2 separate regions of the Homo sapiens genome follow, and region 1 is linked to region 2. Evidence: fine-mapped QTL for protein levels in blood plasma. A gene starts in region 2. The other region holds a variant in brackets. All regions are shown on one strand. Distances are between the middles of the regions.

Region 1 (16,391 bases), 27 kb before region 2:
TAAATAGAGCATCTTACCTTTAAAGGGGTCTGAAGTTTGCTTGTACTTAAGTTTCTAGTGTGTTCTGTGTAAAAGAAGAAGAGAAGAAATAAACTGAGAAAAAAAGCTTCTACCATAAAGGAAAGATAAAGAGAAAAAGAAAAGAGAACAGAGAGGAAAAATTCAAAAAAGCTTAAAAAGAGGGACAAAAATAGGAGGATGCATGCTGCGCTGCATGAGTAGGGTAGCAATAGAAAGGGTTGTGGCTTGTGAGGTATTGTCAAGTGGTTTGTATTAGCCTTCCCAGGCTGCCATAACAAAATACCACAGACTAGGTGGGTTAAACAACAAATTTATTTTTTCAGTTCTGGAAGCTGGAAGTCCCAGATCAAAGTGCCAGCAGATTCAGTTCCTATTGAGGGCTCTTTTGCCGGCTTACAGAGGGTTGCCTTGTTGCTTTCTCCTCACTTACTGTTTTTCTGTGCATGAGGGGAAAGAGAGCTCCAGTGTCTCTTCCTTTGTTTTTAAGGACCAGTCCTAATGGATTAGGGACTCATCCTTCTGACTTCATTTAACCTTAATTATCTCCTTAATGCCCACATCTCCAAATACAGTTATATTAGGGGTGAGGACTTCAACATATGAATTTTAGGGGGAAACAATTTAGTCCACAACATGTTTGAAGGAGGGGTATCTGATGGAAAATTGTAATGCCAGGTATGAATAGGTATGGCTTATTGATCTCATGAGGTATGTGTATGTATATATTGCGTATTCCCACATAGCTCAGTTCAGCTGAAATATCTAGTGTTTCTCACAGATGAAATTGCATATGAGTTAACACAAAATTTACATTATGCTCAAATTGTTTCCTAATCTATCAATGGAGTTGGAACAAATTAGGGTTTTCGAAACAACTGTTGTAGCAAAACTGACCGTACTCATTCAATCAATAAATATTACCTGAAACTATAAAACTACTGGAAGAAATGCTTCACAGCATAATTTTTATAGGAGAAACACTTCACGACATTGGGCTGGGTGAAAATTTTTTAAGTAAGACCTCAAAAGCACAGGCAACAAAAGCAAAAATAGACAAACGGGATTACATCAAATGAAAAAGCTTTCATACAGTGAATGAAACAAGAGTGAAAATAAAACCTACAGGATAGGAGAAAATATATGTAAACTATACATGTGACAAGGGGTTAATATCCGGTATATAAAGGGAACTCAATGCAAAAATAATAATAATAATAATAATAATAATAATAATCCAATTTAAAAGTGGGCAGAAGACCTTAGCAGACTTTGAAGACAAACAAATGGCCAACAGATATATGAAAAAAATGCTTAATGTCATTAATCATTTATGCTAAATACAAGTGAAAACCACAACAAAATACCACCTCACTCTAGTTAGAATGGCTATTATCAAAAAAGACAAAAGAAAACTATTGGCAAGGATGTGGAGAAAAGGGAACGCTTACACATGGTTTTTGGGATTGTAAATTAGTGCAGCAATTATGAAACACAGTAGGAAATTTCCTCAAAATATTAAAAACAAAACTACCCTATTACCCAGCAATCCCCCTACTAGGGATATATCCAACAGAAATATACATGTTGAAAATGTATCTGCACTCCCATGTTTATTGCAGCATTATTTACAATAGCTCATATATGGAATCAAATTAGTGTCCAACAATGGATAAACACATAAAGAAAATGTGGTAAATATACACAATAAAATACTTTTCAGCCATAAAAGAAAATGAAACCCTGTCATTTGGACAACATGGATGAACCTGGAGGATATAATTTTATGTGAAATAAGTCAAACACAGAAAAACAAATACAAAAGTTGATATTGTAGAAGCAGGTAGTGGAACAGTAATTACCAGAGACTAAGTGGGGAGGGGTGGGGGGAAGGAAAGATGGGGAGAGGTAGGTCAACAGGTACAAGTTACAATGAGATAGAAGGAATAAGTTCTAGTGTTCTGTTGCACAATAGGGTGACTATGGTTAACAATAATGTATTGTATAATACAAAATATCTAGAAGAGAGGCTTGTGAATGTTCTCACCACAAAAAAATGATAAATACATGAGATGATGGAAATGCTAGCTGCCCTAATTTGATCACTATATAACATATATGTGTATTGAAACATCAAATTGTATCCCATAAAGATGTACAATTATGTGTCAATTAAAAATGGTTTAATATTGGAAAAAAAGAAAGTATAATATTCACATTACTTTTGATGGATTATCCTAAAATTAATCAAAGAGTAGTTATGTATTTGTATATTTGCTGGTGAATGTCTCAGTTTTACGCCATACAGATATTTATTAATATTAATATGCTATTTAGTGTTGATCATAAGGCAGATCCTTAGAATCTTGACCACATCCAGCAAGGGCATAGATAAATTGTCTAGGGGAGCTTGCAAACATGGTGATACCACATTAGGGTTTAAGGCTTTCCTAATCCTTCTACAAAATTTACCTTACTGAAAAATTGGTAAATCGTTGGGAGGTTTTTCATGTTCGGCCAGAGAATTAATTGCACTTTCAGACAAACTTAGCATTCCAGTTGGAGAGCTTATTAGAATTAAAGCTTGACTAATCATTCTGGCTAATTGTATAGTTCACTTACTTTCAACCCTCTAGCCTTTTCTAGAATAGGGAATATTGTCATTCCAATAAATAAATAAATATCGAGTACCTCCTCTGTGGCAGGTCCACACCAGGAACCAGAAATCCTGCAGTGAAGAAGCCAAGCGAAGGGTCTTTACACAAGGTGTTTACATTCTATTGGGGGGAAACAGACTTACTTATATAACCCTGAGGAAATCAGTCAACACCAAAGTATACAAGATAATTAAGGAGCATGAAAAATGCACTAACAAAAATAAGAAGGGGATGAGATGGAGTAAGTAGGGGAAGACACTTCAAACAGTCATCAGGGAAGGCATCTCTGAGGAGAGAAGGAGTAGAATAGCTGAACAATTGGGGGAAAGGCATTCCAGGCATTGGGTTAAAGCAGAGTTAGTGAGGTGGAAGAGACTAGGGGATGGAACAAGAGAGGGAGGAAAGGACTAGCTCCATCTTAGTGGGCTGGGAAGCCACTGAAGAGTTCTGAGCAGGAAAAAGACGTGATTTCTGTTTTTAAAATTTCACTTTGACTTCTCTGTAAAATCCACTGTAGTGAGAAGAAGAGAGACCAGTTGAGAGGATATAGCAACAGGTCAAGCCAAAGATGAGATATGGAGTAGAGACAGAGAAAGAACTCAGAATTTGTTTAAAGGTTTAGCCAAAAGGAGTTGCTGGCGTACTGGATGAGGGTTATGAGAGAAAGGAAAGACACAAGAATGATTCCAAATTTTTGGCTCGAGTCACTGAATAAATCATCATGCTGTTTATTAAACTGTAGAAGTCTGGAAGCTTAACTGGTTTGGGAACAAGAGTTGAGTTTTGAACATGTCAGCCTTCAGATGCCTGTTAGATATCCTGTAGCAATATAGAATTGCTGCAACAGGCAGTTGGCTACGTGAATGTGAAATTCTGGGAGAGGTTGAGGCTGGAGATTTAAATGTGGAAGTCGTCAGCATACATCTGGTATGTAAGGCGGAGGTGAAATCACGTAGGAAGTGAGTTTACAGAAAGAACACAAAGGAGGCAAAAACTGAGCCCTGGGGTCCCACAAGGTTTACAGGTCAGGTAAAAGAGGAGCTAGCCAAAGAGACAGGAAGAAATAGCTGCTGAGGTAGCAGAAAGGCCAGGTGTATGTGGCACTTTGTAAAACATGTAAAAATGTGTTTTATGAAGAAAGGCTGACCAACTTTTTGAGAGACTTTCAGAAATGTCATTAATAAGTCCCAAATTGATCACATGCCTTGCATAATTTAGGAAAAGACAGTCCATGTGCCTTAGTATTATATGTACAAACACATACAGCTAATGTTTTGGGAGGCTGAGCAAAGAATTAAGGCCTCAAGATCACGCTTTGGATAAAGAATATTTTAGGCTTTGTATAGCCACTGAAACTTTTGAATTTTGTCTTGCTTATGAGTATAAACTTCTTTATGCCCATGAGAATGTTGAAATATGCCTTCATCTCTGATTGTAGAAAGAGGATCCTCTTCTTATTCCCCTCACACTTTTCTCTGGCAGTCCAGGCCCTCCCTTGTGCTTCCTGACCACAATACCTTTTCCCAGAGAATGGATTCCCCAGCAACACTCTGAGGCTGAGAGTAGCACACAGCACGTTCACAGGGAGTGATCTTCAGAGTTACAATTGTACATAGTAGTGCCAGACCTAGCAAATAAAACTACAGGATACCTATGCAATATTTGGAACATACTTATACAAAAAATTATTGTTTATCTAGAATTCAAATGTAGTCGAGAGTATTGTCTTGTATCTGTGTCCCTACCTGTAAGGAAATGAAAAAGGCAGGGTGGAGGGAGAAAATTGTCTTCTCTATGTCGGCAGCTGGGGCCTCAGCTGATCCTAGGGGTGCCTTGAAGCTGCTATGGCCCTTCATATTGATTAAAAATCGTGGCAAGGGGGTCAGGCCATTGTATTTCTGAATCAGCTAGTTATTGGCCTCAGGGTACCCTGGGAATGAATGTAACCTTGGTAGTTGCCTAAGGTAAGAGGCACGGCCTTGAGCAGCTGCATATTCAGCAGCTGAGTTATGAGCACTGAAAAGGGAATTTGGACCAAGCATCAAGGTATCTTAGGTTTAAATGCTAACTTCTTAGAAGCCATTCATTTCCTTTTAGGTGGTTTACTTCTATATCTAATTAGATAAGGCAGCTAAATATATTCTGAATGCTTTAAGTGCTACATTAAAACTAAAAAGCGCTGTTCAAAAGTAAGGTGGCAGTACTTATTACAGTAGTCCAGCTCTGCCCTCGTGGGATATATAGAGCATATTTTTTTAATTTTTCGTCTTCTCATCTAGACTACAAGCTTCTTGAGGGAAGAAACCAGGTCTTATTTATCTCTACACCCATCACTTGTGGCATATTTGGCATATAGTAAGTACTCAAACAATGTCTATGGAAAACAGACAGGGAATAACTAAGCAAACCATCCAAATGATAACTAACAAGAGTTAGACCTACCCTCTGCGAGGGTGGAGGGAAAGTGATATTAGGCCCCAAAAGCAACGTGCGACATCATTTTTATTTTTCCTCTTATTTTCTTAAGCAAAGCAAAACTGGCTCTACTTTCCCTGGCCTTTGAGTCTCTTTTTTAGGCAATTAATAAATCTCGACCAATCTCTGAATCATTCGGTTCACTAGATGTTCACTCAGTCACTGAGTGCATTATTGTTTGGATGCCTGATTCATGACATGTTTTAAAGAGCTAAGGAGACATGGATCCTTTCCCACTTGGGTCTCTTTAGGAAACTTTGGAAACTTCTGGAAACTTTGAGGGTCTTCTTCCTAAAGGGAAGAAGACATTCTACACTCTGGTGAGAAGAACAAGAGGCTCCTATTTCTCTCTTAACCTGAAACCTCACCTCTTATGAATGTTTCTTTCTATTAACCCTTGAGTGAATCACACTGATGCTTAATGATAATCCTCTGATGGACATGCTTTCTCTCTTAGAATGAGTGTTAACATGAAATGGTCTCCAGATTCCCTAAAGCCAGACTAGTGATCCCAAATTTTAACCACATTGGATCTTGCCTGCACATCCTGCCTCTGGCTGCACACCCACCTTTACGCCCACGGCATGAAGCTGTGACCACAGAGGCAGAAACTTGCAGGGTGGTCTTCTGAGCACACCCTAGGGGAAAGAGACATGAAATATTTATTGACTGCAGGCCAATGTTACAGGAACGCTGGCTGAAACCACTGCAAGGGTGCCTCTATAACAACCAAAGTAGACACAGCAACATTTGCCAACCCCCTTAAATGTCCTGGGGGAGGTTTGTTTGCACTAATCCTAGCAGTCCAAAAAGCAGCAGCTGTTCTCAAAGGAAGTCTGATATATATATATAATCCTTTATTTAAGACCAACAGTGGGAGGTGGTGTTTAATGAAAAAGGTGCTAAATTGTTAACAATGTTCTTGCTTCCAGCAAACAGGTAGAAAAAGAACTGAAATGTTAAGCAATACTCAGGACCATATTTAATAATACATCTTGATTTTTTAATTCATGCATTTTTTTCTGTGCTATAGACATCTTTGTCTTGGGAAATAAATTTGGGAAGCACAGGTGAGTTTTTTTCCAATTTCTGAGCAATCCTGGAATCAGATCGTATTGCTTTTCCAATCCCAGCTGTAAGGTAAATGTTTGTTATAGCAGATGGAATTAGAAAAGCCTGCACACAATTTTCTTACGTTCTATTGGATCCCTAATTATCTTAAAATAAGCATAGAAACATCTTGCATCTTTGATAACATCCTGTAGGTTAATATTCAATAAAAAATGCGATAAATTCCCAAAAGGAGCATCAAAGAAACTTGAGAGTTACTTCTAAAATGTGTAATGTAAACTACAGCTTAAGGTTTTGGATCCATCCTGGTAAACAGTGACCCAACATACTAAATTCCTTTGGCAAGAATAAGTGTCATTTTTAACCTACCAAGAACTGGATATCGTATTCTAAAGCTATGGTTCACTTCCCTAATATTATCAGCAAGAATGTAAATTTCCCTCAAACCAATGTGTTTAATTCTATTCCCAGAACCCCAGCATAATGCCAGGTATAAGGGGTTAAATGAACACTGAATGCTTTTATTAGAAACTTACTAGTGGTTTCTGCCATAAATTATTAGCAATCAAGAAATCATTATTCTTTTAGTTTGCTTGGCTCCTTTGGACCTTGGAGTTTTGCTAGACTGAGTTGATTTTGTGTCATTAAACATTAAACTCCCTTGACTAGTGGAGAAATCTTGTGGTTTGTGCTCTGCACCAGCAAGGTGGGATGCGTGTGTATTTTTCTCATTTGTTCGCTTGCTCACCAAATGGTAAAGGCTGAGAATCTTAGGCAACATGATATCTAAAGTGAAAACAAACTCTCTGTCAGAGCTGATCTGTTGTTTTACACAGTGATACAACAAATGTGGCAACATAAATAAATGGGCATGAATTTTCCTTCTAATCATAACTTAAAGGAACTCCAGATCTCAGACAAAATTTATGGTAGTTATTGCCATAACGGTTATTCTTTAATTACTTAAACAGAAAACATATTTTTCTCCCCTTTGAAATTCATCTTTTATGCAAAAAAAAAAAA[C/AC]AAGAATTGACTGAGAACATACGCTTTTATACTACTTTCTGTTTCCAGATTTGAAACTCATTCTCTCACATGCTCCATTAAGATGGTGACTGTTAGAGAAATCTTTGTATATTCTCCTTGTACAATTAATATTTTAGTATACAGGTATGCTTAATCTCAGACATTCTGTGTTAAGGCAAATGTAGGACAACTAGCTAACTTTAAAAAGTGCAAATATATAACCAGTGTCAGAAGTTATAGAATGCACACATCCTACAATGACAACCCTATCATAAAATGGAGTACTATCAGGGAAGCTCAGCCATAATTGCACTCAGGAAGGTAAAAGACATTGGTGTTTCCTCCTCAGCAGAAATTCACCTCCCTGTATGAAAATCTGATAAATTGTCCAGTTTCCCACAGAGGGAACGACAGAGAATTTAATGAGAAACACATTGGAGCTGGACCTGTCACTGTGTGATTATGCATTCACTAATCTCTCTGTAGGATACAGAAAAATGTCAGTCTTCTCTGAAAGAGTTTATCTAGGGAAAGGGACAAGCACATCTAGAAATAAATTACCAAAAAGAAATGTCTTTACTCTCCCACTGATACCTACTGGCATCCTACTAGACTGCTTGTTTGGCCTACAAATAGCAAAAGCACTGGGATTTGCACAGTAACCTATTTTTATGATTGCTAGTGAAATTGAAGTGTCATATGATGACATGTATTGATACTTAAATGCAGCTGCAAGTGCCTGATATTTTTAGTTTGGTCTAAAAATTTATGTTTGAGAACTTCAAGTACAGTAGGAGGGGCAGTGGATGTTCTTACTCTTATTGTAGGAGACATTTCATATTTAACATGAAATTCTCTTACCTGTCATCATCATTTTTGTCCGATAAATCTTATTCAGCACATGTATACATCCTAAAAGCATTTCTGAGCAACTAACATATGCCAGGAACCTATAATTATAATTACACACTAAGTTTTGTGAATAACTAGAATATCCAATAGCCTCTACAAAGTGTTTAAGCCAGAGGAACACATCATTCAAGTTTGCTTTTCGCTAAGAGCATTTATTGAGTTATTTTTATTAGCCTGATTTTAGGGTGGGAAATGTGCAATGAGGGCAGACATATTTTCTCCAGAAGTTCAAAATATGAGAGTACATTGAAGTAAATATACACAAGGAACTACTAAACAAGCACTGAGCAAGTCCAAGAATGTCTTGCTAGCTGAGTGCCTTGTGCAAGGAGGGATCTCAGAAAACATTTCCTGAATTTTTGGGAAAGTAAGGGAATGGTGACAGAAAATTGTGTCCTGAGCTATCTTATTTGGAGGCATGATGTCAAGAAGAAATTACTCATATTTCTTCAAGAATTTCTAGAAGACTTCATGTAGAATGGGGAACTTTAATCACAAAAGAGCTGTTTTTAAAATTGCATGTTTAATTAAGTAGGGCTATTTATTATCAACAATGATACCACTCTGACCATTCTTCCTCCAGGTTAATTCAAATTTTTTACATCCTTCATAAAATGCTAAGCCCAAAATCGATCCTAGCTTTGTAAATGTCTTGATCAAATCTCACACACTTATTCAGTGGATATTTTTTAAACTAAGAAAAGATCTTTTAAAAAGATCTATGTTTATAACTTCATTGACAGCTTTTTTTTTCACGTGGTTGTCCAGTTTCATCTGGACGTAAATTTAGTTTCATTAGAGAAGGAACTATGTCCCTTTTTATGATCTCATAGAACTTTCAACATTGTAAGAATCCTACAATCACTGGTAATAAATCTAGAAATCATGTTAGAGATCAAATGGTGAAGGGTAAAACAGGTGCTAGAGAGTGACTTGTGATATTTATGTCTGAATAAAGACAAAAACAATTTAATAAACTAAAACATAAATGAGAGTTCTTGGTTTATAATCTAATATTATTTTTATTGCATAAAATTGCTGAAATACTGATTGATGATGTGTAGCCCAGCTGACTGATTCAATGTCATAAAAATTCTTAGATGTCTACCAATGACTTTCTTCACAGAATTGGAAAAAACTACTTTAAAGTTCATATGGAACCAAAAAAGAGCCCGCATCACCAAGGCAATGCTAAGCCAAAAGAACAAAGCTGGAGGCATCACACTACCTGACTTCAAACTATACTACAAGGCTACAGTAACCAAAACAGCATGGTACTGGTACCAAAACAGAGATATAGATCAATGGAACAGAACAGAGCCCTCAGAAATAATGCTGCATATCTACAACTATCTGATCTTTGACAAACCTGACAAAAACAAGCAATGGGGAAAGGATTCCCTATTTAATAAATGGTGCTGGGAAAACTGGCTAGCCATATGTAGAAAGCTGAAACTGGATCCCTTCCTTACACTTTATACAAAAATTAATTCAAGATGGATTAAAGATTTAAATGTTAGACCTAAAACCATAAAAACCATAGAAGAAAACCTAGGCAATACCATTCAGGACATAGGCATGGGCAAGGACTTCATGTCTAAAACACCAAAAGCAATGGCAACAAAAGACAAAATTGACAAATGGGATCTAATTAAACTAAAGAGCTTCTGCACAGCAAAAGAAACTACCATCAGAGTGAACAGGCAACCTACAGAATGGGAGAAAATTTTTGCAATCTACTCATCTGACAAAGGGCTAATATCCAGAATCTACAATGAACTCAAACAAATTTACAAGAAAAAAACAAATAACCCCATCAAAAAGTGGGCTAAGGATAGGAACAGACACTTCTCAAAAGAAGACATTTATGCAGCCAAAAAACACATGAAAAAATGCTCATCGTCACTGGCCATCACAGAAATGCAAATCAAAACCACAATGAGATATCATCTCATACCTGTTAGAATGGCAATCATTAAAAAGGAAACAACAGGTGCTGGAGAGGATGTGGAGAAATAGGAACACTTTTACACTGTTGGTGGGACTGTAAACTAGTTCAACCATTGTGGAAGTCAGTGTGGCGATTCCTCAGGGATCTAGAACTAGAAATACCATTTGACCCAGCCATCCCACTACTGTGTATATACCCAAAGGATTATAAATCATGCTGCTATAAAGACACATGCACACATATGTTTATTGCAGCACTATTCACAATAGCAAAGACTTGGAACCAACCCAAATGTCCAACAATGATAGACTGGATTAAGAAAATGTGGCACATATACACCATGGAATACTATGCAGCCATAAAAAATGATGAGTTCATGTTCTTTGTAGGGACATGGATGAAGCTGGAAACCATCATTCTCAGCAAACTATTGCAAGGACCAAAAACCAAACACCACATATTCTCACTCATAGGTGGGAATTGAACAATAAGAACACATGGACACACGAAGGGGAACATCACATACCGGGGCCTGCTGTGGGGTGGGTGGAGAGGGGAGGGATAGCATTAGGAGATATACCTAATGCTGGATGACAGGTTGGTGGGTGCAGCACACCAGCATGGCACATGTGTGCATGTGTGACAGACATGTGCATTGTGGACATGTACCCTAGAACTTGAAGTATAATAATAATAAAATTTAAAAAAAAATTCTTAGATGTAAAGATGCCTCACCTGACTCCACTCAGGTTGGATCAGCATCTTGTTCCCTTTTCTCCCCTGAGACTTTCAAATAGGGCAGAGTAAGATGGAGGAGGTAACTCTTTGTCTCTGCTAATACCTAATCATATAATCTTATTTCAAAAATTGGCCAGTACAGTTGGATTGACTACAAAAAAAAATTAGGCCTTGTCCATTTATCCAGAGGTTTCCTTCAAAACTTTTAAAAAATTTTATCACCTAAAATGGATTTTAAATTATCAGAATTTAGATGTAGCAATTAAGTAAATCTTAAAGGAGGTGTAGAATTCCTTTAAGAAGTTATTGTCTGCTTCCCATTGCAGCAATGTCTGCAATACTACTTTTTTTAATGAGCCCAGAAACAATTCTCTGCAACTGTAAAAATTATGCCAGAATGCAAGTTTTTGGTTAGTGCCATAGTTTCGTTTTGTTATTGAAAATGGGATAAGTCATGATTTATTCCCTCCCTTCTATGGAAGGGTAAAAAATGTTAATGGTAAGAAAGTTATTACATTTTCTATTTCAAGATTGATTTAATAAGAAATTTACCTACCAGATTTATGATGTTTTATTTTTAGCTACAAGAAATAAAAGCTTAAAAATAACAGAAATAAAAGCCTTAGTTTTATATATGTAATTTTTATAATATATACACAAACTTGGAAATAACTTCTGTCAGTATCCCTTATTATTGTCACATGATTTTGAACTTCTGGACCAATATAATTCAGCTGAAAGAACCAAGAAAATTAATATGCACCTGTACTCTCAAATTAGTCTCTTTAGAAGGAAGTGAAGAGAGACTCTTGAAAGATAAATCACAGTGTTACTACATCTTATTGAAAATTTCTATTTATCTCTATAGATGTTCCACATAAAGAAATCTTAAATAATTAAACATAATATAATTGATAAAACTGACATGTTAGTCTGGAGATGTTTGTCACCTATAGACAAAATAGACTCCTAAATATTAATATAAAAGTTATTGTTGTGTTTAGATGAACATAACCATAACCAAATAATTTTATTTGATATTTGGTGGTTCTAGTTACTTAAAATAATAAAAAGCTACATAAGCAAGAACCCTCTTAGAAAGTTGTAAGCATTAGTATAGACTTATATTTATACATGTTTTCTGTACATAAGTTCATTTAATTAATTGATGTAGGTAACTTTATGCTTCACTAAGCATTAATTATACATCATTGTACCTGTAATCCCAGCACTTTGGGGAGGCCGAGGTGGGCAGATCATGAGGTCAGGACTATCAAGAGGCCAGGATTGAGACCATCCTGACCAACATGGTGAAACCCCGTCTCTACTAAAAATACAAAAATTAGCTGGCGTGGTGGCATGAGTCTGTAATCCCAGCTACTTGGGAGGCTGAGGCAGGAGAATCCCTTAAACCAGGGAGTTGGAGGTTGCAGTGAGCCGAGATCATGCCACTGCACTCCAGCCTGGTGACAGAGCAAGACTCTGTCTCAAAAAAAAAAAAAAAATCATTTTGTATGGCCAGTAAAGACAAGTGTAATTGTGTAATTTAATATTTTCTTTTTAATTTTAGCATGGCTTTAAATTTTGAAATTAATGATTCCTGACTTGCATAATATATATTTAGTAGCTATCCTACTTTCACGTTAATATGCTAATCAAATCAAACCAGGAGTATAAGATAAACTATTACATTTGAGTTTAATGTAGCCTACAAGCAACATTTAGCCTATACAACTTATGCATTGACGTGGCTTATTGTTGACCATCATTATTATCTTTCCCTTCACTTATTAGGAACATATGTTTACTAGTTCCTGTTTGGCAGCTAAAATTTTTCATGTGCCCTAAGAACTTGGTATACAGTGCACAATACTTAACAATAGATTAGAATAAACTAGAGTAATATTTTTAGCTTTAGGCTGTGTAAACAGGGTCATATGCCATTTGGATGAGAGTTGAACATACTAAAAAATTTCATTGTTTCATTTAACCCAGAAATACTTTAAAGTATAAATTAGTTCAATTTTTGTAGCATTTCATTTTATGCTATTTAAACATTATGCATTCAGTGGAAAGAATGCTTAATCAGATAATTGGCTTTATAATAAAACACTATACTGATGTATACATATAATGTTTTAGTTGATGGATGGGTTTTTTAATATATTATTTGTTATATATATGTGTGTACTATTTTCCCATCAAATTAAAGCAATCTGCTTATATGGTAGCTAGTTCAATTTTGGTAAGTTTCCACTTTGTATTTGTGCACCAAAATAAATCATAGTTTGCTTTAAGAAAAAAATAGTTTATAAGTACACTTTAAACATGTTTAAATGCAAACCATGAAGTTTCTATGAACCCTTTTGTTACTACTAAAGCCATATGTTTAGCCTTTAGCTATGCCTTTTTTGCCACATTTCTGAATGTAAGATAAACGTGTATTTTGCAGAACTTTATTAAAATGATTACCTGAGAATAAATTTTGTAAATTTTCTTAAGTTAAATTTTCTGTGATTTATGTCCAGCAGTCAGTATTTAGGTTGAAATTAAATGCCATTTCAACACAACAAATTCCCAAATTAAGTTACCTCTATCAAAAGGCCAGTTTTTTTAATAAACATCAGAAGTTTCCTTATAAAAGGGCACATCTATTCACTGGATTGGTTACCTTTAGGAAGGGAAGCTCAAAGAGTGTTTGACTGAGTAATAAGAATATTTCTGACAATGGGACTTGGCATGGATAACTGTTAAACCATTGATCTCCTTCAGTTCTCTATCATTTCTAAGTGTTTGCTCCCTGTGGATCTATACAGTGGGATAGCAGAGAGTCATAGAAGTATTTTTAAGCACTTGAATTTCATAGTGTATGCTTCATGGACAGAATAAAATGTATTCCTCCAGCTGTTCAAGAATGAGGGCAAGGGGGAGATAAAAAGAGAAATGAAGGCAAGACAGACTTAGATCTCAATAAATGTTGCAAACTTAGTGTACTTTTACCTCTAAATCCTTTTCCTTACCTCCCACATTTAATTCCATCAAAAAGTCCTTATATTTTCTCCTTGCTTCTAACCCATCATATCCCAGCCACCAAAGGTTTAGGATTCCACATAATGTCATGAATTGACATACACATACACACAAATCCAAGCTGAGCCTTTGGTGCTGTGAAAGAGAATTTAAACATTTTAAAATGTAAAACTAAACATATTATCTGAGGTATGGCTAGAAATAAAAACAATAAAAAAGTGCAGTGAATAGGAAAAATGTAAAAGATTTCCATATTACAAATGAGCTATAAACACATTTATAATTCATAAACAGCATAAAATGATTGCTTATGTCATATTAATTAAAATAATAAAAGTAAGAAAATATGCTCAATGCAGAGGTACTTTTAAGAAAACAAACAAAAAAAAACAAAAGTTAACAAAATATTTTATCTGCATCAAAATATTCTTTGGAAACCAAAAATAAAAATGTATCATGTATGTTCTTTCAGGTTAATCTGTAAAAGTCAGAAAAATACGTAGTCCCTGTTATTTAACTTTCCGAAAATACAAAGTTCTAAATATCCCTCAAGCATAAAGCAAAAGGCTTTATGTCTTGCTGAACTGAAGGAGTGTGCTCCCTGTATTAGTACAAAGAATTCCAGTTTCCTTCCTATCAAAAAACATTTTGTTTCAGTCACATTGAAACAAATGACGTGACTTCAATACAGTGTAAGTATAGCTGAAGCTGTGTCCAGTAATTTTTCTTCAGAACTCTGAAGACACCTATAGAAACTCCTGAGGGGAAAGAATGGTTTCTCACAAGGCCAAGAGGAATATTATCCAAAGCGAAACTTGAGTCTGTATTTCACTGAGTTGGTATTTTTCCGAGGTGCAGAAAGGGGAATCTTTGGCTTGATAGGGCTAGGTGGCTTTTTCTTTTCAGGAACAGTAACCGTGAAAGAAAGTTCTGGCTGCTCCGACTGCTTGAATCTTGGCAGAAAATGGGTAGAGATATGCTGGGGTTTAACCCGGGGGCTGCACCCTCGTTTGGCTTTTCCTCTTTTATTCAGGGCCACATACCACTCCCGCCCTGTTTTTTCAGTTCTATGTATTGCTGAGGCATAGGTATTATAGCTATTTTCTTGAAAACGCTCCCTGAACTTGCAGTCATCTGTGAACTTGGCCTAAGGAGGAGAAAAAAAGAGGAAATTTAAGTTGTGGCGATCTTTTCAGCATGTAATAAAACATAAGGTATTGTAGAAAAAAAAACAATAATTTTGTTGATCTCTGTTCCTCCTACTCAATTCCTTTTTATAAAGACATGTTTGCTTATTTTAAAGTTGCTTTAAAATTACTATTTTTCTTTCTATATTTCTACTTCATTTATCTTTGTAACACATTTCTGTTCCCTACTTACTTGGTGACATAATATCGATGACTATAAAAGTAACCAGAACTCTTGATACATTTAAACCCTGTTACTATTGTTTAAATACTTTGAAATGTATAGTTACAAATCTTTTTACATACTGTTTTTCCTCCTAACTCACTAAGAAAATAAATGGAACTATATTACTAAGAAATGATTGCCTGGTAAAATATAAATTCCTGTTCACAGAAATGAGGTCAAAATTATTCCTTTGAAACAAGCTTGCATTTTTTCAATGTTATCAGTGTGATTGAGGCTGCTGAGAGAGAAGTAGCATATGGCCCCCATTAATATTGCACGTGTTAGAGTTCTTTAGAAAAAAATAACGTATCTTTACTCAGGCATTACAGGAAAGTATATCTAACTCCAAGAAGAAAAAAGTCACTCGAGTTACTAACTACACTTTGGCCAGATCTTACACACACACAAAATATCTGCCCTTGAAATGCTTACAGAATAGTGGAAAAGCAGACAAGTAGACATCCGTCATGGTGCAGCTTGATAAATGGAATTATGACAGCGGTATGCAGAGGGTACAATGACAGCATAGAGGAAGGGCATCTAAGAGGGTGGAGGTGGCCAAGAAGAGGGCAGAAAAGTCTTCCTATAAAAGGTGACATTTGAGCTGAGTCTTCAAGTACAACTAGGAATGTTCTCTAACTAGCATTAGAGAGGAAGGCAAAATAAGAAAGGATTTTCAGGGAGAAGGAACAGGGTGTTGAAAGGTCAACATGACACTTTCAAATACCTGTAAGTAGTTCAGCGTGACCTCTACCTAGGATGCATGTGGGAAGTAAGGAGATGAGCCAGACAATGTAGGTCAGCACCAGCTCTGAAAGAGCTTAGTTTGCCATGTAGTAAAATTTGAAGGAATATGTGGGAGAATGGGGGAAGAGTGTGAACTTGGAGTCAGACATGCAATCAAAAACCAGTTCTGCCAATTAAGCTCTTAGCCTTAGCCTCCTTATCCATAACACTTACAACAATAGGGCTGTTATGAGAATCCAAAGGAGGATTCTGTAGCTTTCATCAAACTTGAAAGAGCCCATAACCCCCAAAGAATTAAGAATTCCTGTACTAGTTAAGACTACCAGGTTTCATAATTTCAAGGAGTACTATTTACA
Region 2 (16,391 bases):
GACCTGTCTTAGAAAGGAAAAAGGGAAGCCAGGTGCAGTAGCTCACGCCTGTAATTCCAGCACTTTGGAAGGCTGAGGCTGAAGGATCGCCTGATACCAGGAGTTCAAGACCATCCTGGTCAAAATAGTGACACCGCATCTCTACTTTTAAAAAGGAAAAGAAGGAAGGAAGAAAAGAAGGAAACAAAGAAGGAAAGGGATGGAAAAAAGAACATCTCAATATTTCCATCTATAATATTCTAAGCATATATACTAATTAGGATATCTCAATAGGACTCTGCCAAATAGAGAAATTCATCAGATTTTCTTGAAATAGCAAACTCTCCCTGCAGTATTTGAGGTATATATAAAATTATTCTGTTTACCAAAAACAAGAAATATTTTATAAATATATGTGAGTAACTTTATTGAGCATTTATTTTGTGCAATGTGAGCTAACATCTATAATTCTAGCAAGCACTGCTGTTTATTTATTCAACTTGGTTTCTTAAAAAACTTGATTAGAAAGTTTATGTGAAAAAGGGGATAACTGAACAGCTTATTTAAAAAATAGATGTTTTTAGCCCAAAGTAAATAAAACACACTTTAGGGAAACTGCAGGTACCAGTTCACTAATAGGTGTTTCTTTAAATTGAAAAACAAAAATCAAAAACTATTGGAAACTACTTTTGCTTTTAGAAGGAAACTGAAAAAAAAAACCACCAGTGCTGTATAAATCCTTTCCTTCAAAATGTTTTTAAATGCTATTTATAATAGGATTTATTATGAACATTGTTTGAGTGTGCTTCTAAAGGTTTAGAAGCATTATCATTTTATCAAATATTAACAAAACACACCAAATGCTTTGTAAAGTTACTCTACACAGATGTAATATGTTATAATAATATTATTACTAAAGCATGACTATAACAGTGATACAAAGTTAAATTTCTATTGGAAATACGGAATGATATTGGGAATAGCATTAATGATTTTAGATATTTGGGAGATGGGGGATGTGATTGTGAATATTTATGTAAACATGTGCATTCAAAAATGAGAAAGAAAGAAAGAAGGAAATTGTATATGTGTGGAATGATGGATACAAAAGGGACAACATGGAGTTGATACAGGAGAGATTTGATTGTATATTTCCTCCAATTTACTCATGGTGCTAGATTGTTAGAGGCTTTTAATTCCATTCCCTGGAAAATTATCTGGTTTTGAACATGCAGATATATTGTATATTAATGAAAAAATACATGGCAGAATAAAAGATTAAAGTCTCATAAGTGTATGTGTTTATATGCTAACTTTTAAGATGTTGAGATAAAAAGGCTTTATAAATATTTGTTTTAATAGAAATACTACTGCTTTGCTTAAATAAATAGTTTCTGATAATTAGCTCATTCTCTCTTTAAACAAAGACCCATTTAGATGCATTTAACATGTATTTCAATACAGTGTACACTCTGTGTATATATTATGTACAAGTTGCATGTAATGTATTTTAAATATGGGGAAGATGAAATAATATATGTGAAAGTGTTATTATTGTATTACATATTGCTGGGTTTCTTCTTAAAACTTCCAGGATAAAAATGATATAGTGCCTGAGAATTAAAAGATTTTATAACCTTAAGAAAATTATCTTTAACTGAAAGCTTAAAAATACACTTTACATATGTCATTCTATTTAACATTATAAAGAATGCAGGAGATGTAAGAGATGAGACTAGATGAATGAATTATTTTTCACGTGAGTAACTTTGGTATTGATCTTCTAAATCTTACCGTAATTATGACCTAATATTAAGAACACTGTTATGATCATAATTTCCAAAGTAATGTCAGCAGTGATTTCACAATGCCTTGTTTTCTGGAGCAGATTCAATGAGTCTCACAGTTCAGTTTCCTGCCCTCCTCCCCAAAACATCACAGGCCTATTGATTTTGCTATGACAAATCTCAGTAACTCATTCAGGAATTCTACGTAATTTTTTAAACCCATGTGCCTTAAATCACAAATATATAAATTTCTGAAAACATTTCTCTGACATTGATTTTTTTTAATTTCAGTAATTTTCTGACCTTTATCATCGGGAGTCACGCATATTAAATTTGATGGAAACTTACAATTCTCCTTATGGATGCCAAGGCAGTATTTCTAAGCCAAACTGTGGAAGGCCAAGCTTGTCTTGTAGATGGTATATAGTCAATGACTGTTTGCTAAATTTGACTGCCTTCTTTGATCCTCTCACTACCTCTCTTTTCTCTTGTCAGGACACCCCATGCATACACAAGTATGGACAGGTGTCTTAGTACTCTCCTGCTACTGTGGCCTTCTCCTGCTTGAGAAGGCACGGGGTGGACGGGTGGCTCAGTGTAAATAAATTCACATTAAAGTGCTACAGACAGTGTGTTATTTTTCTTAAGGTGTTCCCATTTAAGAGGGTCAAAAGAAGAGGAGAATGCTTAACAGAAGGAATTATTCTCTTTGTGGAATTTCAGCATTGACACCTAGGCTGAAGAAGGCAAGAATGTCTTGGTGTCTCTCAGCTTATACACACAGTCTATTCCACTTATGCATTATGATGTAAGCTTACTTCCGTAAAAAAAAACATATTTCTAGATTTTTGACTTAGTCCTCTGCAGATTTCTTAATATAATAGGGCTCTACTGATAGTGGTTGATACAACTATACACATTTTTCCTTTTTCTCTCTTTTGTTAATGAATAAAATATAGAAAAGCACAGATATTCCATGTATTCAGAAGCTTTCAACAACGCATCTGAAAATCCCCAGACAAAAATATTTTAAAACTGAAGTTTCTCTACTTGCATCCACAAAGTAACAGATATGCTGTGCCAAGTTATGAAATCTGAATCTTGAAATATTCAGTTTAGCAGTCTTCACTGATTAAATTAGCAACAGAAATTTTCCACTTGATTTTTCTGCATAGTAGATATAGATTCTGATTTATCTAGGCTTGGGGGACTGTCTAATGACTCCACATGACCCCAAAATTGGTAGTGAATTTAGATTTTTTTAAAAAGCAGTAACATCGACGATTCTATTAACCAAAATATGTGCTTGGAATTTTCATATTTTATGTAAACGCTTTGACAAAGCCTTAAACTTTTCTTCCCTAAACTGACAACTACTTGATTGCCTATTCTTCAATGGCCCAAGGTAAGTCAACAGAAGCACTGTATTGACATTAAACTTGAAGGCGTATAAATTAAACCAAACCATTTGTTTCCATGCAATAGTTGGGTCATCTATCTTGCCTTGTTCATATTTCTTCATTTTTCCACAGTATTTCCTCATAATAAGGATTTATATACAATGAGCTTGATTTCATTTTCTGTGTTCAAAACTTGGGATAATTATTGTGTAAGAGAAGCTAAGAGTATATTAATTGGTCCATGTAAACTAAACAAATTATGTTTGAAAGTCCATGGCCATGGTGCACTTCTCATGGTGAAACCAGAAAACATTTGCAATTTGCAAAAAAAAAAAAAAAGTTTACTGTCAAATAATAGTTTGCGAAACACATATGATTATCTGTTCTATCAGACAAATACTACAGAATATTATTAGGTTTAAAATAACTTGTTAGAATGCAGTTTCATGGCAAAGCTTTGACTTTTCTGAAGTATCAGGGTTGTAACAAAAAGAATAGGTTTTCTATCATCACTAACTCACATACAGTAGAAATAGAAGATGAGATCAAACTGAGGTATCCTCTGTGGCCCTTGATCCAGCCCTCTCAGCCTCTCTTAGGAGATTTAAACACATTTCCTCACATACTCTAAGAAAGGCCATGGCCAACACCTTAGTTTACACGAATGTCAGGAAACATCAACTACTGCCTTCAAAGAGGTAAATGACCAATTGTAATTAGCAAGTTTCTGTTTCTCTTTTACAGCTAGGTAATGGCAGAGATCCATGTTAAATTCCCAAATTACATGCAAATTCTGCATTGATCAAAGGTAGTAAAAATTTTATGAAGTAGTATTAGACACTCCAGATATCACAAAGCAGAAAATTACTATGATTTGAATATTTGCTATGCTTTCTTCTGGGGAAAAAAAAAAAAACTCTATGGAAGACAAACAACACAAAAGTAACCAAAATATCATGCTTAGTGAGATAGGTATCTTATATTGGGTACATGATTTATGGCATGAATGAAAGCAAGTCATGTGAAAGACACAGAAACTAAACTCTGAAAGGTTATTGTAAACAAGAATAAATTAGGAAAAAGTTTAAATTAAGCTTTTTGTCGGCACTGTTTTAGGAAACATCCCTGTTCTCTTGTAGATATCTTTCAACATGGATTTTAAAAGAAAATGTACATGTTACATACTGGGTAGTGGTCAATGTCTTGTTTATCTGGGTGCACTCTTTTTGATCTGCTCTTATTTTCCCCCCTTTGCTTTTCTACAACACCCCCTCTAGCAAGGCCTAAGCTGTAAAACTACCTTCGTCTCATATAGTGTCTTCGTAGAGAAGATGGTGAATATCCTGGGAATGAGCCTTGCTTTCTGAGATCTCTAGCACACCTAAACCCTCCCCAGAAGCATTCTCTGAGCTCCCTGGGCTCCAACCTGCTGCTTGCTGCCTGCTAGTTTGGGGTCCGCCCTTGAGCTCACGGAAGTTATCCTCTGTTGGTGCTCTGTCATGTACCCAGGGAGAGTGGAAACATAGCCAGGAGACAGCAGCGCGCACAGTCACCTGTCTTTCAGTGTCAGCCTGGTTGCTCCTAGATGTTCCTAACTTGCTCCATCTCAGACCAATGACTCCACGGGTCGTTACAAGAAGAACAGAAGAAAGAAAGTTTTCTTGTAAGAGAGAAGGAAAGGTTGCCGGAAGTGGGAATAAGCTGTGATGGCTGATGGAGTCAAAAGACCGTTGAGACAAAATGAGAAGGACGAATGGAAATAAATAGATGTTACTGATTATTCCTCAAATCTCAGAAAATTCCATTTCACCCCAACAGATCTTGCCCTTTATCCCCCAAATGAGCAGTTATTCGATGAGTGAAATAAACTCTAAAATATGGAAATAGATTCCTCTCGGGAGTGTGAGGGAGGCCCTGGGACTCGCTGGTGCGTGTGCGGAGGGCCCTCTCTCCAGCTGGGCGCTCCAGGCGCCCTCACCACGTGCGCCGCAGGCTGCTGAATCAGCGCGATCAGATAGACTAGACAGGCGCAGAGGGGCGGGCATAGACCTGCTTTTCTCTCAGCATGAACCATCAGGTCTTCCGCATTAGGCCCCCTTAACCCACCGGAGGAGGCTAGCCAGCCTACCGCCTTACCCACTTGCGCGCCTCCGACCCCCCTCTGGAGACTGCTGGCTGCCAAATCTTCAGACCGCCGGTGGTGTCCACGCTCCTCTGGAGCCTGTGTAAGAAGGAGCCCAATGGCCCGTGGAGTCTTTGGTCTGAGATGGAGCAAGTTAGGAACATCTAGGAGCAACCAGGCTGACACTGAAACCAGGTGACTGTGAGCGCTGCTGTCTCCTGGCTACATTTCCGGTCTCCCTGGGTACCTGACAGGCCCTGGCTGGGGCTCTGCCTGGTGGACCAACCCGCGCTGGAAGAGCGATCTGGCCCTACTGAGCAAAAGCCCCACAGAGATCTCCCCACTCCTACTCACAGCCCCAAACCGTCCCTGCCCCCAGCTGCCTAGAGGCAGTGAAGAGAAACCAGAGGAGTGGCTGCGATGGTCTGGAAACATAGATGGGGTGGAAGGGAAGAGGAGATGAGAAAGGAAAAAAGAGAGCGTGCTGAAAGAAAAAACTCAGAGGGAAAATTTAAAACTTTGTTTATAAAAAGTCCTACAAAATCTGCACCCCTACCAAATTTAACCTCTGCGTTTCTTCTAAAATAAGGAACTTTCCCCTAACTGTTCTTGGGGACCAAAGGCTGGCCACTCTCCTAATACGGTGTAGTCATGGTCTCAAGATACTAAACATTGTTAAATCCAACTCTGGAGTTAGTAATTTCAATGTTTATCATGTCTCCCTCTCTAAACGCGTCCAGTTTTCTAGAGCACAATCTTCTTCCAAGCAGGAATGTCTGTCTGGTGTCCCCTAGTTATCTATCTGTCTGTCTATCTATCTGTGTATCTATCTATCTATCTATCTATCTACCTATGTGTATACATTGTATACATAGACTTATATACATATATACATATACATATACAATATTAATTTGAGGTTTATGGTAGCGGATGGAAGAGGGAAGTATTTGGGATTTGATTCTTCTTTTCAAAAAATAACTTCAGTTATGGATAGGGAGAAGGGCTGCCTTTGATGCCTAATGAAAAATGCCAGGCTAGTTCATAAGCAGAAGGTAAACAAATTGAGTGAGAAGAAATGAGTTTTTTGTTCTCTCCTGTCATGGCTGGGGACTCGTCTTTGAGGCTAGAGCAAACTGAAAACAAGGTACCCGTCTGGGCACCAGCCTCTAGGTAACATACACCTGAGAAATCGCAATTCCTCATGCCCAGGAGAGGGGTGCGTGTGCGCACGCCATATAGATGCATCTCCACCCAACCCGCCCGGCTGTTTCTGAGTATCAGCTTGGTCCCAGTGGCCTGGGCTCAGGAAGGTGAGCCTGTGTCCCGGCGAATACCTGCTGTCCCTCCCGAATCTTCCGCGGCCGCCTAGGACGGGTTTTGTAGGAGAGCGAGTAACTTACTTAACATATTGGCTTCGTGGGATCCATTGACTTTGCCATCCGGGTAGATCTGCAGATGGAAACCGATGCCCACTCTGCAGTAGAGGCTGCCGGTCCGGCGCCCCGAGGGGCTCCACTGGAAACTGCTCTGCTCCAAGCCACTTCCTTGGCTGCCCAGAGAAGCTGCGGGGGAGGAGGAGGCAGAAGAGGAAGACATAGCGCTACTGCTGCTCTGTCTGCTGCTGGAGCCTCTAGGGTTCCTATCAGTGGCAGCGGGTCCGGGTTGCCCTTTGGGGGCGAGACGCTTCTCCCCGTGAGCCCAGGCGCTGAGGATCAGGTGGCTGAAGAAGAGGAGGAGGAGGAAGGACAAGCTCATTCTTCCAGCCGCGGGGGTCCTAAGTGCATCTTGTAGGGCTGATTCTGGGCTCTGTAGCCCCTGTGCGGCTGCGTGCCTCTGGCTCTGCCCGCCTCGCCGCACCGGGTGGACATAGCCTCGGGGAAGAGAAGGGGAGAGGGGAAGAGAGAGGCCACCCGAGCGGATCTCCGCGCTGGCACCGGGATATTTATAACGCCAGTGATCTCACTGCTCCGTGCACGCCTGCGAAGCTTCCCCTCACCCGCGGCTTTGTGTACTCACTGGCCGGTGCGGGGAGGGAGCCTCGCGGTCCCGGGGGCGGGGGATGTGAAGGAGGGAGGAGATCCGAGCGAGTGAGTGGGAGGAGAAGCTGGGCTGAGAGAACCTGCGCCCCGGACGCTGGGTGCGCCCATACCAGGGCCACGCATCCCAGCAGTTCTCTCGCGTCGCGCGGCCACCCGGATTCCCCGACTAGGACCAGAGCCGCGTGGAAACGAGCTCGGCGTTAGCAGCTGAGTCCTCCAGGGGCAGCGATAGAAACGGAGGGTTGAAATGTGGAAATGGGTCCTTGTCCTCTCCCACCTCTACAGCACACTTGTGACTGGGCAACGCACTCTTGCCCCCCAGGACACGATTTCCAGGTTCTCCTCTCTTTGCCCTGTAAACCCTGCTATCTCGTCCTCTCTCTGGGAGCCCTTGGAGAAATGCGTCCCACCAGGAGATCCCACTGCTTCTACGTCTTTCGGCGTTGGAAAACCAAACAGGGATTCGCAGCCCAACTTGGGAAGCCTTTGGTGTGGCGCGGTTCGGGGAGAAGGCTGTTTTTGCTGTTATTAGCGATTTATTAAAGAGCTAAGGAATGGGTTTATTCAGCGTTTAAAACGCCACCCTGAGTCATCATGCCACGACTGGAGCTGCTTTCTTGTTGGAAACTCTCGGCTGCGCTGAACATTATGACGAATTTGTTTTTCCTTCTGGGAAGCTCTCCGTCTGTATTCGTGAGAGTGAGGGCACACGCACCCCCGCGCTCCGACCGGGGAAAGAGAGGCAGCGGCTGGACACCAGCACATGTAACTGACCGCCCAGTTGTCCTCTTTCGCCCCAGGATCCCCGTGGCAGGAAGGGTTAGCTAACTGCTCGCTTTAGCTTACCCAGACCTGCCATTGACTGAGGGACCGACCTCAGTGAATGATTAATGACGTGCGCGCTGGATTTCAACCTCAGGAAACCCGAGAAGGGAAAATTTCCTTGAGAACAGAGAATTTCCCTGTACGGGCAACGTCCCCAGACTGTTATTTATCTGGGAAATACACCTGACTTGCATGCTTGGAATGTTTCTGTCTAAAAACATATTTGAAACTTTAAACTAAGCTATGATACATTATTCATTGGTTATTTTAATGAAACGGCCCGTGCTATTGACTGATAAGGTCAATTCAGATGAACCAAGGTTGAAGCTAAGAAACGGCCTTACCCATTATTGAGTACCTACTTAAGGTTTTCCATCTCAATAATGAAACGCATATAAAACAATGCAGATTTTTCAGGTTTGGAATCTTCCACCGCCAGAGTAACATCAAAGTACTTGTAAAACAGAAGGTTACCTGGAAAGTGTAGTAAAACCACTGTGATAAAGAAAGAGGACATCACACATAGATGTGCATAACATGGGCACACTACATGAGATACTGTCCAGAGCTGAACACACCCCCTGTCCACTGTTCTAGGCTCAAGTTATATACTTCTCCCTTAACTAGGGTGGGTAGGCAGATCCTTACAAGGCAACCCTAAAAGTAGACATTGAGAACAGTCACAGTATCTCTCAGAATGGTCTACTTGACTGAAATCACCTTCTTCTGGGGAGGATGATTGTAGGATGGTTCTGAACCTGGGTGCTGTTCCTTCTTCAGGCAATGCCCTGAGGTCTGTGGCAAAGCTGTCAGGGTTTAAGCCACATTGATGCTGCTGAATGCCATTTGTAAGTTCCCCCATGCCACGCAAATACACAGCCCATTCCTCAAGTGACGAAGATTCTCCAAAGCAAATCCAGCTGCTTGTTTCTCCCTTTCCTTTTCCCAAGGAGTCTGCTGAAAGAGGAGGAGAGTGGTTCCTGCCCCAGCTGCACTATCAGCCCCCTGTCTAAACCCAGGAGGTCAAGAGGACTCTGGAGTCCAGTTTCTGGAGCTGTTATCAGCCTCTTGTCTTTGCTCCCTTCTCTCAGTTTCTGCAGCCCCGCCTGCACTGAAACAACCATCCTTGTTTCCCTCTCAACTCCCGCAAGAGCCAAACTGGGGATCAAATCCTTGCCTAGGGATGACCCAGGAAGGCAAAGACACCTGCTCAGGCTTTAGTCTACCTCAAACTGGAGGATGGCAAGATACACTTTTCTGGATTCCAAGGGCTTAGAAAGAGTCAGGGGCTCACTAAAAGGAGACAAGTGACCAGCTGTTGTGGACAGTGATTGAATTTGGCAAACCAGTCCTCAACGCCCGACTGTCTTCCATACTGGGGTGGGAGGATTGGGGGTTGGGCGGGCAGCCGAATGTGCCCACATACTCGGGGCTTAAAAGGAAATCTCCATTGGTGATCATAAGTGTGTAGGGTGGATGCTATTAAACTTTTTTTTTCACAAGAGAGTTATGTATTGGGGCCATTAAAAAAAGCTACAAAAACTGAACAGTGAAACATGAAAGACAGCACTGCGCTTGTTCCGTGAGCTGAGCTGCCAAGCCCCCTTCCTCCGCAGCTCAGCTGAGAGACGAAAGGGTCGCGCTATGCGCCAGGGCTGCGCCCGCCCTGGTCTACATCCTGCCTACCACTCTGAGCAGCCGATCTTCGAGAGCCTCTGTCCACAGCAATTCTGCAGTGGGGAATGTGGGGCGGGGAGCTATCTCAATTTACTGTTTTGGCTACCTCGAGCCCTACTCCTGTGAACTCCACCCAAAAGAGCGCAAGCCTGCACCACACTTTCTCTGGCGACTTTCCGAAAAGTTAATCGCCCAAAGCCCCCTGCTGGGGACATCTCAGCTTTCCCCATTAAGCCTCGGAGCTTGGTCCAGATCTCCAGGTCATGCGCGGATTCGAGCCCACAGCTCAGTTCTCCAATTCCTGCGTTCTCCCAGCCAGGAAAGCAAGGTTGGGAGAAGGCGCAAGCGCCCTGCTTCCTGCAGAGGTAAAACAAACGGCCCCGAAGATTAGTTTCCACTCATCGCCACCTGACAGACGACGGAAAAACTACCCAACAGATTAGCAGATTCCACCAGTCACCTAGGCGCCAGGCAGTGAGTGCGCGGGCTTCGGCTTAGGTCCCCACCCCCTCTTCTTGAGCTCTCTTTCAGCGGTGTCTCACCCCACTAGGCCTCACATTTCCTAGACCAACCCCCTCAGGGTCACTTTTCCTGGACCCCAGCATCTGAACTTTCTTTCCAGGCCTCCCCTATTTCTGTGTGGAAAACTGGTGGTGAATTTCCCCTATCCCTTTCGTAACTACAAGTGTGATCTGGTTACTAGAGACAGAAATCAATGCAAAAGAAGATAAAGTTACCGGTAACCTCTGGTTGGAACCCAGAAGCCTAAGAAAAGAGAAGTCAGGGTGTATAAGTCAAGTCAGAGCCCAATATTTCCTTCACTCTAGAGACCGTCTCAATATTTACAACATTCCCCTGGGTTTAAACTGAGGCCAGGCCTCACTGAGGCAAGGGTCCTGAAGGCAAGACTGTTCATCCTACAATGTCTCATGCTGGGTTGGAAGGACGGACAAGAGATAGATGATGGAATAGAATGAACAACCCTGGCAATGCAAGCCACTGTCCTGGGAGGCTGTCTGACCCAGGAACCAGGCTGCCACTGTGCCAGGCTGATCTTACACAGACTTCTGTTCCAAGAGCCTCAGTTACCCCAAAATCTCCACTCCTGGAGGTGCAGGTGCCATGAGAAATTTGCCTGTTCTGAGCTTTAAGATGACTGTACAGTTTGAAGGCAAGGCCAAATTTTCTTTGTTTGATCCAAAGAAAACCCAAGGATTTTTAGAATGCTTTCCTGGGATAGCTGTTTCAAACATGGTCCCAAAAGCCTCTGCACCCCACCCCTACCCAACTCTATATTCCTATCACCCTTTCATACTCTCAGGCTATACCCAGATAGTACTATCTTTTGTTAATCAGGTCCTGGGAGCCCCACAGTGGCCTCTAATTGCATACACTTTTTAGTAGAGACTGCTATGGACTGAATGTTTGGGTACCCAAAATTCAAGTTAAAACTCTGTTCTTTTATGTGATAGTATTTGGATATGGGGCTTTGGAAGTTAATCAGGTCATGAGGTGGGATTAGTGCATGCCCCTCTGCCTCCCCCTTATAAAAAGAGGAGAGAGCTTTCTTCCTCTCACAACCCCAATCCCTCAAATGAGGAAACAAGGAAGGAGTCCCTCCATGCTGGCACCCTGATCGCAGACTTCCCAACCTCCAGAACCATGAGAAATATGTTTGTTGTTTAAACCATTCTGTCCATGGTTGTCTTGTTATAGCAGCCCAAGCCAACTAAGACAGAAGCACAGTGCATTGCAGGACTCGGAAGCTAACCTGGTGGGGGCCCTCAGTCCAGGTTCTTGCCAGGACCCTCTATTTCCTCCAGGCCTGGCTTCTCACCAGCCAAGTTGGCAGCAACTACAGCAACAAATAGCCTGTGGCTAAAGGAGCACTGAGCTGGGAAGGGCCGGCTGTGTGAGGAAGAACCAAAGACCAAGAGGGACAGAAGAATGTGTGCAGTGTCTACTTTTAGGGTGATGAAGGTATAGTTACAAATTGTGCAAGTCCTGAGGTTAGACTTCTTTCTCCAGGGTCCAGTCCTTCCCTCTGAGAAGAGGCCTGTTTGCAAAAGGCCATTGGCCACTGGACATTATATCTGTGAAGTCAGAAAGTAAAACAGCATTTGCTACTAAAGAGAGGTACTTTGTGACCTAAGTGAACTCAAGGCAATCAGTTTTTCTCATAAAGCCCAACTCCTGTGCTTTCCAGTTATCCCAGTGACTATTTTTGTTTTAGCTTCTGGTACATCCATGCACTAAGTCCCAAACCACTATAGACCCCCAGTTATCCTAGCCTGCATTACCCAGTTGTAGGGAAATACTTTCTCTTAAGAACTGGAAGCCTTTTATCCTGTCTAAGGCCAGCCGTAGAAGATAAAGGATACAATTCCCTGTACTCCTTACACATGCATATGAAAATCATGATTTAAAAATCATACCACCTTTCCCTGCCTCCCAAATAAAGTCCTCTCTGCTCTTTGTAATGGGTTTTCTTACTGGTACAGTCTATATCTAATAATGTCAAAGGGGACATTCTAAACATATGTGGAGGGGTGCAGTACTTCCAGTCTTTTTTTTTTTTTTTTTTTTTTTTATGAAACAGGGTCTAATTCTGTCTCCCAGGCTAGAGTGCAGTGGCACAATCAGGGTTCACTGCAGCTTCCATCTCCTATGCTCAAGTGATCTTCGCACTTTAGCCTGCTGAGTAGCTGTAACTACAGGCACGCACCACCACACCTGGCTAGTTTTTGCATTTTTCATAGAGATGGGGGTTGAGGGGGGTTGGTCTCGCTATGTTGCCCAGGCTGGTCTCGAACTCCTGGGATCAAATGATTTGCCTGCCTTGGCCTCCCAAAGTGTTGGGATTACTGGCATGAGCCGCCAAGCCCGGCCTATACTTCCAGTCTTAATTCCTCAAAAGGAGTGCATTGGGTGGAAATCAGACTTTTCTTATCTATGAGAAAAGAAAAAAAAAGATAAATTAGCATAGCTGCTATTTGAATAGCTCTAGCATTTGGTTTGTATCCACAAAGACAGGCCATAAGCAAATGGGTACTCATTCAAGAAAAGTGGGAATAGAGGATGGGGGGAAAAACGTATGTCCTCTTCTAGAACATCTTTCCTGTGCCAAATGGGAAGGGCAGGAAGAGAACAGAAGTGAGACCAAGCCTGGTACCAGCAAGAAAACAGTAGGAAGCTGCTGGAACTATGATGCACGTGCTATCCATTCACCAGCCCATTCAAAGGCTGTTTGTTCAGAAAATAATTTGATCAAAGGTGACTTTTCAGACTAAGTCTGAGAGCCAGAACACACAGACAATGTTTTATTTATTTATTTTTCAAAATAAAGTGCTTAGGTTTCTTCAGGGGGACAATAATTGGAGATGCAACTCCAATTATTGGGGTGGGACTGCACCGAATCTGAAAGATGTCCTCAACAATAGCAAGTGGATAATTTGCTTCAGTTTAGTTTTTGGTGTGTTTTGTTGTTTTCTTTCAGGAAAAGTTTAGGCATCACATTCTAGAGAAATATTCTTTGCATACTTTTTCTGAAACCAGACACTTTATGGGAAGTCAAAAAGATGATTTTGACTTAAACAAAAGCTGTTAACAAAAATAAAAAAGAAAGAAAAAGAGAGAAGGGAAAGAAAGAAAAGAATTCCTTTTCCTGTGTCCTCTAAAAAGGGAATTATTTGTAAACTGCACTTTTGTCACCTTTAATCATTTTTTTTCAAATTGCAAATTAGCTAGCCCAACAATCTTGGACCATTTATTCAATAAGCACATTATAGGAGCATTTGATAATCATGGTATATAACAACTAAAATAGAACTTACGACACGTCCCCACTTTACCTCCCATGCAGTCATACACAAAATGAGATTTAAAATGGAGTAGAAAGACATGACACATACAACTTAGTTTTAATGTTGTGATCATTTGCTCGTATTATGACAATCATGCTGATAAATTCTGTTACTTCTCATATCTACTGTGTCCACACCCTTGGTCCATTTGCTTTTCATTTCAGTAGCTGGCCCAGGTCAGAGCAATGAGAAGGTCCTAAATTAGCTCCTAAAAAAAGAAAAAAAAGTGACTAATCTTACATTCACAGATTTTTTTTTAAAAAAAGAATTTACTTCATGCAAATCACCCTGCTGTCTTCCCTATCTTTGAAGCTCCTGTGTAATCCTTAAGGGAGGGTTTTAGGAGCATACAGCATATTACAATACGACTTTTCTTGGTTGTAAATGAGCAAATTTTCTGCTGGGAGCTAGAGGAGCACACAGTGGAACTCTGTGTTGTAACCAGGGTCACCATCAAACATATTGTGATTTGATTATTGCTTAGCTGTTTCAATTTTCTTATGATATATATGGTCTTAAGTAAATCATAAGTTCCTCAAAGGAAATCTGTCAGTATACACTGCCTTGTAATCCCCAGAATGCACAATAACTGAAATCCTAAATGAAGATCCTTAAAAGGAATGGCTTCAAAAGATGGCTTAATAATTATTTAAATTTTCTCCCCCAGAGAAGTGAGACTCTACAGCATTTAAAAGTATATGGTAATGGTGAATGATTTTTTTTTTTCCGCCTGCTCTTTCCTTTTTCTAGGGGAGTGAGGATTTGAAAGAGTGTGAGTGTGAGTGTGTGTGTGGGGGAAGGGTGTACGTACAAGTGTTTTCATCGTTTGCATCACCATGGCTCTTAATTACAGTAATCATTTTTGCAAATAGGCTTTGTTTTCTACTCTGAATCCCTGGCTTTTGGCAGGCTGCATTGGGCAAACACCTGTTGTCTGGTAAAACAGAGAAGCACCTGTCAGTGAAGCCACTAAGTACTAACTTAGGAGCTGTCATGGGGGTCTAGGGAATCTTTGCAATTGTCAGAAGAAAGGAAGGAGCACCTGCTTAGGGCCCAGGAGGGTCAAATGACAGCTTATTGACTTCTGACAGAAGATGTCGATGAATACATTCCCTTTCCTCTGCCTACTTCTGAGAAATGCAGCCTGTGGCCACAACGTCTGTTAATGAATGATTGACTGTGGCCAAATTTGAGGAAAAATCGCTTTTAAAGGAAATAGTTTAAGGAATATGAGGGCTTAGAGGCATCAAAAACTAAATGGCTTTTATAGGAGAATATCCAGCCGATAAGAGTGAAAGAGGGAAGTAATAAGAAACGGGAGAGGAAACAAAGAAATATTGACATGAAAAAAGGGACAAAGATGATTTTTTTCTATGTGATCATTTCCTTCAGAAAGTGACCATTTTGAGTGCATTAGTGGTTCTGGGCTAGTCCTATGTATATATATAGATCCAGTATAATAGACATCCCTGGAAAAGTTCTTATCAATTCCCTTGACAGTTTAGATACTTAAATGTGGCTTATGCCTATACATGGAAATGGAGGAAAACAAAATAAAAAAAAAAAGTAAACCTTTGGGAAGGAAAGAGAAAATAAAAAAGCTCACATTTTTTCAAAGATAAATTTTACTACCAGTATTTATCTTTAGAAATCCTAGTCTTTTGTTGCTCATGCTTAAGATACATAGAAATCCACACTGGCTCAGGAAATTTTCCCTTTTTAAAATTTATTTTTATTTTCAATTTTTGTGGGTGCATAGTAGGTGCATATATTTATGGGGTATGGCTCAGGGAAATTTCTTGAACCTCCCTGATCCTGTGAAAGATTACCCACAAAGCTGGATGTTACAAGGATTGGGCACTTGAGCTTTTCCATCTGTATCTCTTTCCAGTTGGAATTACTCTCCACAATATTCTGTGGGAGGAGCTGCCAGCCTGAATTCTTCCTCCAGATGGAGATTGCTTTTCTCTTCTGCCCCATTGTCTCTCATAAAGCCACTCTCCTTTCCTTATATTATTATTTTCCTAGTCTTGGGGGGGTCTCTTAGCAATAAATACAAAGGGAAATTGGGGGTGGATGAAAAAAACTGTAGGCAGGAAGGAAGAGAGGCAGGAGAAATCATTAAGAGAAATTTTAATCTTGAATTCATCCTTAATTTTTCTTTTTCCTGCACTCTCTGTATGCAACCCATTAGAAACTCCTTTTGGCTTTATCTTCCAAATATATCCAGAATCCAAGTACTTTCCACCATCTCCACTGCAACCCTCATCACCTCTCACATGGATGACTGCAATAATTGGTCTCCTTGCTTTTGGCCTTGGGCCCTTAAAATTTATTCTTAATGCAGCAACCAAAATAATCCTTTAAAAAATAAAAGTCAGTTTATGTCACTCCTCTTTCTTTTTCTTTTCTGTTTTTTTTTTTTTTTTTTTTTTTTTAAGACACGATGTCCCTCCATCACGCAGGCTAGAGTGCAGTGATGGAATCACAGATCAGTACAGCCTCAACCTCCCAAGTTCAAGTGATTCTTGCACCTCAGCCTCCTGTGTAGCTGGGACTATATGCTCCCACCACCATTCCCAGATACATGTTTTTATTTTTTTTGTAGAGATGGGATCTTTCTATGCTGCCCAGGCGTGGTTCCAATGCCTGGCTCAAACAATCCTTCCACCTTGGCCTCCCAAAATGCTGGAGTT

Alleles and levels. Alleles are on the strand shown, and positions count from the first base shown. The strength of an association depends on the size of the effect and on how common the allele is.
For the plasma level of the protein whose gene starts at base 7,207 in region 2, C is the high allele of the variant in region 1 and AC is the other (weak association).

What was found. PIP is the posterior inclusion probability: the model's chance that the variant is causal. The UK Biobank Pharma Proteomics Project read protein levels with antibody pairs (Olink). The fine-mapping took linkage between variants from a reference panel, not from the people measured, so its PIPs are less certain.
Region 1: its variant is fine-mapped to the plasma level of the FGF5 protein (UK Biobank, PIP 0.91).

The regions. Positions count from the first base shown.
Region 1 is chr4:80,284,956-80,301,346 of GRCh38, reverse strand. FGF5 (fibroblast growth factor 5) reads right to left here. Exons shown (of 3, transcript NM_004464.4): 3 at 10,330-15,022. The coding sequence ends at 14,675. Among named protein-coding and RNA genes, the nearest start is that of FGF5, 26 kb to the right of the region's middle. The variant C/AC (reference allele first, on the strand shown) is at 7,245.
Region 2 is chr4:80,257,480-80,273,870 of GRCh38, reverse strand. FGF5 (fibroblast growth factor 5) reads right to left here and starts at 7,207. Exons shown (of 3, transcript NM_004464.4): 1 at 6,692-7,207. The coding sequence starts at 7,046. RefSeq lists enhancers at 4,668-5,238, 6,981-7,512, 10,029-10,530.